Homo sapiens: one gene and its partner. The protein of the gene in region 2 purifies or fractionates together with the protein of the main gene of each other region. This does not show direct contact. Each region holds a gene or a part of one and is shown on either strand. Other genes may lie near its edges. The genes, in order: CGAS and ASCC3.

What was found.
Region 1: the proteins of ASCC3 (region 2) and CGAS purify together in Homo sapiens (affinity purification with western blotting; one study listed by BioGRID). This does not show direct contact.

The regions. Positions count from the first base shown.
Region 1 is NC_000006.12:73,442,281-73,446,104, forward strand, and holds part of CGAS (cyclic GMP-AMP synthase), read right to left. Parts: intron 3,468-3,824; coding exon 3,248-3,467; intron 1-3,247. UniProt on the Homo sapiens protein: Nucleotidyltransferase that catalyzes the formation of cyclic GMP-AMP (2',3'-cGAMP) from ATP and GTP and plays a key role in innate immunity.
Region 2 is NC_000006.12:100,874,686-100,878,509, forward strand, and holds part of ASCC3 (activating signal cointegrator 1 complex subunit 3), read right to left. Parts: intron 1-3,824. UniProt on the Homo sapiens protein: ATPase involved both in DNA repair and rescue of stalled ribosomes. 3'-5' DNA helicase involved in repair of alkylated DNA: promotes DNA unwinding to generate single-stranded substrate needed for ALKBH3, enabling ALKBH3 to process alkylated N3-methylcytosine (3mC) within double-stranded regions.

The DNA of each region.
Region 1 (3,824 bases), about 27 Mb from region 2:
CTCTCCCTCCCTGCTAGATTATTCTGAAATTCATACAAAGGGTTATAGGGTATACCTCTCCTTTCACCCCACATCTTCCTCCTCTCCATACTCACCCATCTTTCTGCTTCCTTCCAGCCCAAACTTTTTTTTTTTTTTGAGACAGGGTCCCGTTCTGTCACCCAGGCTGGAGTGCAGTAGCGTGAACATGGCTCACTGCAGCCTCAACCTCCTAGGTTCAAGCAATCCTCTTGCCTCAGCATCGTATGTAGCTGGGACCACAGGCACATGCCACCACTCCTGGCTAATTAAAAAAATGTTTTTTTCTTTTTTCTTTCTTTTTTTTTTTTTTTTTTTCTGAGACAGTCTTGCTCTGTCGCTCAGGCTGGAGTGCAGTGGCGCAATCTCAGCTCACTGCAACCTCTGTCTCCCAGGCTCAAGCAATTCTTTTGCCTCAACTTCCTGAGTAGCTATGATTATAGGTGTCTGCCACCACGCCTGGCTAATTTTTGTATTTTTAGTACAGACGGGGTTTCATCATCTTGGCCAGGCTGGTCTTGAACTCCTGACCTTGTGATCCGCCCACCTTGGCCTCCCAAAGTGCTGGGATTACAGGCATGAGCCACCATACCTGGCCTAAAATTTTTTTTTGTAGAGATGGACTCTCACTTTGTTGCCCAGGCTGGTCTTGAACTCCTGGGCTCAAGCAATCCTTCTGCCTTGGCCTCCCAAAGTGCTGAGACACCACAGTTAGCCCAGACAGAACTTTCTAGAGTGGCCTACACATGTTATCTCCACTGCAACCCTGCCTTTTCACTCTGTGTCCATCACCCCACTGACATTTCTCTTGTCAACCCCACAAGACCAAAGAACAAATCCATTGGATTTCTGGATGTCAGTAGCATTCCAAACACTGACCGCTCCTTCTACAAAACACTCATAGTCTCCTTTTGTTCATTCTCTTCTTCCCAAACTCTTTTTTTTTTTTTTTTTTTTCTGAGACAGGGTCTCACTCTGTCGCCCAGGCTGGAGTTCAGTGGCGCGGTCTCAGCTCACTGCAACCTCCGCCTTCTGGGTTCAAGAAATTCTCTGCCTCAGCCTCCCAAGTAGCTGGGATTACAGGCACCCGCCACCACGCCCGGCTAGTTTTTTGTATTTTTAGTCAAGACGGGGTTTCACCATCTTGGCCAGGCTGGTCTTGAACTCCTGACCTCGTGATCCACCCGCCTCGGCCTCCCAAAGTGTTGGGATTACAGGCGTGAGCCACGGCGCCTGGCTCTTCCCAAACTCTAATGGAATTCTCTTCTTACCACTCTACTTAACATTGCAACTTCCCCCCCACCTCCATCTCCCACATTCCTGATCCCTCTCACTTTGCTATACTTCTTCACAACAGCACTTACTACTTTCCAGTATACAAGATAATCATTTTTTCCATTTGTTATTAATTGTACGTCTGTGCTTGCAAGATAAAGCTCTTAATCTAATAGCGTAATAACATACAACACAAATTGCAGTGAGTGCTCTGAAGGGAATAAACTGGGAAAAGTGATAGCAATTAGGGTGGAATGGGGTGGTGGAGCCAAGCCCTGAGGCAGAAAAAAAGAGCTTGGAAAGATCTAGGAACAAAAAGAGACTCTTTCGGAAAAGATGAAGTTATATGAAATGAAGCTGAAGAGGCAGCCAGGGACCAGATTCTGTACTGACTTGTAGACCCTGAAAAGGACTTTAGATTTCATTTTATTTTTGAGACGGAGTCTTGCTCTGTCGCCCAGGCTGGAGTGCAGTGGCACGATCTCGGCTCACTGCAACCTCCACCTCTCGGGTTCAAGCGATTCTCCTGCCTCAGCCTCCCGAGTAGCTGGGATTACAGGCATCCACCACCACGCCTGGCTAATTTTTGTATTTTTAGTATAGATGGGGTTTCACCATCTTAGCCAGGCTGGTCTTGAACTCCTGACCTCGTGATATACCTACCTCAGCTTCCCAAAGTGCTGGGATTACAGGTGTGAGCCACTGCGCCTGGCCAGATTTTAATTTAATTTAATTTAATTTTATTTTATTTTGAGATGGAGTTTCGCTCTTGTCACTCAGGCTGGAGTGCAATGCCCCGATCTCGGCTTACTGCAACCTCTGCCTCCCAGGTTGAAGCAATTCTCCTGCCTCAGCCTCCCAAGTAGCTGGGATTACAGACATGTGCCACCACACCCGGCTAATTTTTGTATTTTTAGTAGAGATGGGGTTTCTCCATGTTGGCCAGGCTGGTCTCAAACTCCTGAGCTCAGGTGATCCACGCACCTCAGCCTCCCAAAGTGCTGGGATTACAGGTGTGAGCCACTGCGCCTGGCACCAGATTTTATTATCTGATCATTGAGAAGCCAGGTTTTCATCAGAGAGTAATGACTGGCTTTGTATTTTAAAACATTTACTCTGGCTTCTAAGGACAGATATTATAAGAAGGCAAATAGGGAGATTAGAAAGGAAAATGATGTAATAGTTCAGGTAAAAGATGGTGGCAGCTTAGGTGGGGTGGGAGTAGGGTGCTGGGATTGAAGCAGCAGACAGGTCCAAGCTGTAGCAGCACTTGCATCTGGATTAAGCGTAGGGGGTAACAGAGAGGATTAAATTAAGATGGTTCCCAGGTTTCTGGATGGTGCGTCTGGGTGGATTGATTGTGCCATTTTCTGAGATGGGAAGGACTGAGGCAAAACATAGTTTGGTATATGAATTAAGTTATGTTTATTCGCTTTGGATATGTTTGGTTATAGATTCCTGTGGTACATCAACATCAAAGTGGATATGTTAAGGACGTAGCTGGATATAGGTTTGGAGTGCAAAGGATATATTTGGGCTGCAAGTAAACATTTGGGAGTCATCATCATATAGGTGGCATTGGGAATGGATGAAATACCTAGGCAGAGAGTGTAGATTCATTTATCCATCAATTTAATAAATATTCATTGATTATTTCATATAATTTAATCATTTAATTTAATCAATATTCATTGATTATCTAATGTGTAGGTGTTCTAGTTATTTAGGATTCATTAGAGAACAAATAGATAAAGACCTCTACCCTTCTGTACTTTATAATCTTGTAATCATATTATAAGTAATTGCCAATGTACACTCCTCTACTGATGTTTCTTGACCTCTCTACTGCACTTTTTCTTACTGCAGAGAGGTCAAGAAACATGAGAATGGGAGTGTACATTGGCAATTACTAGGTATAATTAAACCTTTAAGAATCAAAAGGCAAAAGTCTTACCTTTAATGTCGTTAATTTCTTCCTTAATGATTTTCCTAAACTTTGACAGCATCTTAGAAGCTGATAATATTTCACCTTCTAAAAACTGACTCAGAGGATTTTCTTTCGGATTTCTTTTAAATTTCACAAAGTAATATGCACGAGTGTTGGAATATTCTTCTAGTTGAATTCTGGGGACTTCCAGTTTAAACATGACATCAAATTCATTAGGTGCAGAAATCTAAGAAACAGTAAAAATAGTACTGAAATATTTGCTTATGAATATTTTCCAAGTGACTGGAACTTTTTAAAAAATTTCCACTTAAAACTTTACTTTAAAAAGCAAGATTCATAATGTCTATATATACCCTCTGGGAGTGGGACTAGTGGAGCTGGCAGGAGGTGGAAGAGTATTACCAGTTTCATTTTGTAGGTTCTACACTCAATTAATTTTTTTTACCATGACCTAGTATTATTTTTATAACTAAAAATGATTTTAGGCCAAGTGCAGTGGCTCACACCTATAATTAAATTTTGTGGGGCCAGGTGCAGTGGCTCATGCCTGTAATCCCAGCACTTTGGGAGGCCAAGGCGGGCG
Region 2 (3,824 bases):
CTTGCCCTCAATGATGAGCTTACAGTATGGTTGGGAAGAAAGAAAAATAGTTGCAATAATTATGCAGCTATAACTGTAGGAAGACAGGGAAGGAGCATCTAAAGGGGTGGGAGGGCACTAGATATAAAGAAGGAAGCTGAGCTTGAGCTGAGACTTAAAGGACCTAGACAAGGTTATTACAAGAGGTAAACTATGAGGGGGAAAGCCAAAATAACAGACTTAATTACTTTTAAAACCCCTACAGAATGTGCATTTGGAAACTGATGAAATAAGACCTAAAAATGTAAGCAGAGACCAAACAACATGTCTCAAATTAGGCACTTTTCATTCTGATAATCAGAATCACTGAAAAAATACTAACATGTTACAGAAAAATTACTCAGATTTACATGTGGTGAACTGTCAAGGTGGGGTCAAACAGGACACAGGCAAACCAGTTGGGAAGTTATTTCAATAAACCAACTGAAAGACAGAGAGGATAGAATTAAGCCAGGGAAACACATAAAAGGATGGATTTAGGAGATCAGTATACTTGGAAGACAGAATCAATGTGGAATAGGATTTAAAGAAGGAGAAAGGAGCAGGACACTCAAATTTCTGGCTTAGGAAATGTTGAAGAGTGGAGGAGTCTATATGTATAGAGGGCATCAGGAAGAGGAATGATAATTCTGTTTTGGAAAACTTTAATTATGGGCTATCAAGTGGGGCATATGGTTTTGGATTTCCTATCAGAGGTCTGGGCTGGAAATCCAGAATTTCATGTTATCACTTCATCATAGTTAAAACCATGGATGAACATAATATTGTCTAAGTCAAATATACATAAGCCCATGGACCCTCTTCCTAAGAAAACAGACATACATACATATAAACAACATTTTGTACTCCATTTCAAAAGCTGCATGAATGCCCATTCATGCACTCCACCCCTAAAGGCCTCTTGGAAGTAGACAGTAGAGAGTTAAGAACAGAGTTCTAAGAAAGTGATCCACAAATCAGTTGTCATATGGAAAAGTGATATGACAACAGAAAAGAAAGTTTCAAATGACATGATACAGTCCACTGTACTCAGCCACTCTGCGGTCCTAGATGACTAGCACACCTAGTTTCCAAAAATGGTAGAAGCTAAATCTCAGTGAGTTGAAGGATAAACGCAAAGGGAGAAAATAGGGAAAAAACAAACAAACAAACAAAAAACCCTACAAATGGGTACATGCTATTCTTTCAAGAAAATGAGAAAGAAAAGGAGAAAAAGTAGGAAATACTGAAATAATGTGGTTTAAGAGTTTCTGAAAATAAAGGATAGAGTTGATCATGATTTTATCATAATCAGGGGAGAGCAAAGAGAGAAGGAAAAGTTGAGCAATCAGGAGAAAGACTGTGACTGATGGAGTAGGGTCTCTGAGAATGCAGGCGAGAATGACAACAAAAGCATAGGTCTAGAGAGACTTGGATAGATGAAGGAGTACGGAAGGAAGGATGAGTGGAAGTGCATATGGTTATAACATGGTTAAGCAGAGGGTGAATGAGGAGAGAAAAACATGGTAAAAGGGAGTTCCACCAAAATGACTCTGATTTTATTTGAGATATGCTAAGACTGTTCAAACAGGTGATGAGGTGGGATTTTTTCTAACACAGAGGCAAAAGTCTGAACTTACCACCCACAATAATAGAAGAAATATTTTTCAGGTAGCAATGAATGCTCAGCTCATACTGCAAACAATTTAAGGTGGCAATAATCTGGCATAGGAACAAAGGTTGGTGTGAACCAGGGTTAAGGTTTTGTAACACAGAGGCAGTGGGACAATGAAGCCTAAATGATAAGGGTTATTAAGTGCTTAACTTTAGGCCTAGATGAAAGGAAAAGATGTTCAACTAGGAGGTCTTAAAGATGAATCATAACATTCATAGTTAAAATTTCTGGTAAGATCACAGTGAATAAGGATTAAGAAAAACTGGCCTACATATCAATTTTTACCTTACTAATTTTTACTCCACATTTAATATGGTCCACTAAATGACAAATATATAAATGAAAAATTCTGTTAATAATAAATATTTAATGCCCCAGAACAAATATAATTTCTAAAGGATTGAAACCCTAAAAGCCTACTTCTGTTCGTCAGAAGTACTGGCTGTGGCTATCTGAACAAATCTTTAAATTGTTAATTAAACATACGTACAGGTAAAAAGAAAGTCTTAAAAATGTAACTGTCCTTTTTTACATTCCAAATAAGGAGAAAACTAAACTGATGGTAGCATATTTCCTTTTGCAAGATGATATTAACCAATAATCAGTGAGCTAGAATTCCAGTACACACTATTCTGAAGTACTACATTTAAAATTGTAATGTTTATTCTTCTTAAACCAAACCTGTGTTTCTAAACTCTAAAGATGGTCTGACTGCTTGATAGCAACTTTAGGAAAAGATAGTTACTGTATTTTTTCGTTATAAAAATATGAAAAGATCTCCAAAACAGCCAAACTATATTTCCTAATAAGTTTAAAGTCAGCACTTAGTTACTGGCAATTATGGATACTAGGGAATTATTAAAGGGACAAAAATAGTCAAAGTGATATACTGCAGATTAAGGGATAAAAACACTGACATGAAGGAGTAGGTTGTAAATGGAGTAAAATTAGAATTTAAGATTTCAGTACTTAAAATAGAATCTTGTACCCACAAACCACACCTTGAAAAATGAACAGTGAATAAATATTAAACAGTGAATAAGAATATTTATATTTTATTGTGCCTTTTTTAAAAATTGAGTTGTGATATTGTTAACATTAGCAAGATCAGAACTCAGAAAATAACCATCGTCGACACATATTTATAATCCTCCATTATGCGATTTCAAAAGGGGGTGATTTTTTCATGATAAATCCTAAAGATAATTTAATTTCTTACTTGTATTAAACCTTATTACCATCAATTGGTTCATACAGCAGAGTCTAGGCACATTTAACTTTCTTGAATCTACCAAACACTGTAGGCCAAAAAAAGGAAGGCAGAGACAGACAAAAACAATAATTACTAGAGATTCTGCTTACCATTTCAGGTATTGAATATCTGCTCCAGAGTGAATGGGGGATGGGCAACAAGAATCTTGCTCTTTTAGTCTGTTTCAATCACCACATGCATCTCAAAATGTGAGCATCTTGCTGCATTGCATGATTCTAGTTTTTAACACTTTTTCTCTTTTTTTAAAAAACATACAAGGTGGTGACCAAACACAGAGCAACTTTTTCACTGGGAGTTCATCTAAAGAAACTGTGATACATTCCAAGTCAGGATGAAAAACATGGCTGTGTAGGACATGCTGAGAGACAGCATGTTATGCCAACTTGATGTCCTTTTAAGGGATTCTCAAAGGTAATCTTAGCTATTCACAGTTTCCACCTAACAAGTTCACTTTAGATGCTAACTCATTCTTAAGCAAGAAGCAATTGCTCCTGAATAGTTCTCAATCAAGTTAGGAAACACATCTGAAGCATGCAGAACAGAGAAAGCATGACAAAAATAATAAAACACATAAACACTTTTCACACAATACAAAATATATAATGGTTAAAAACAACCAAATTTCTATGGGGCTCTTATTCTCTAACTTATCCTCTAACTAGGTTTCCCATTCAAAGGTGGGGGAAAAAAATCCTGGACAGGCTCATAACTATAAAGCAGATTAGTCTTTATATTCAGAATATTCCCCCCCAAAGTTGTGTTAATTTTACTTTTAGCACAGGGTAAGGAAGGCTTTTCCTTTAAATGTCCTTGGGAAAACAAATAAAAAAAAATATTTTAACACCAGATAAGGACAAG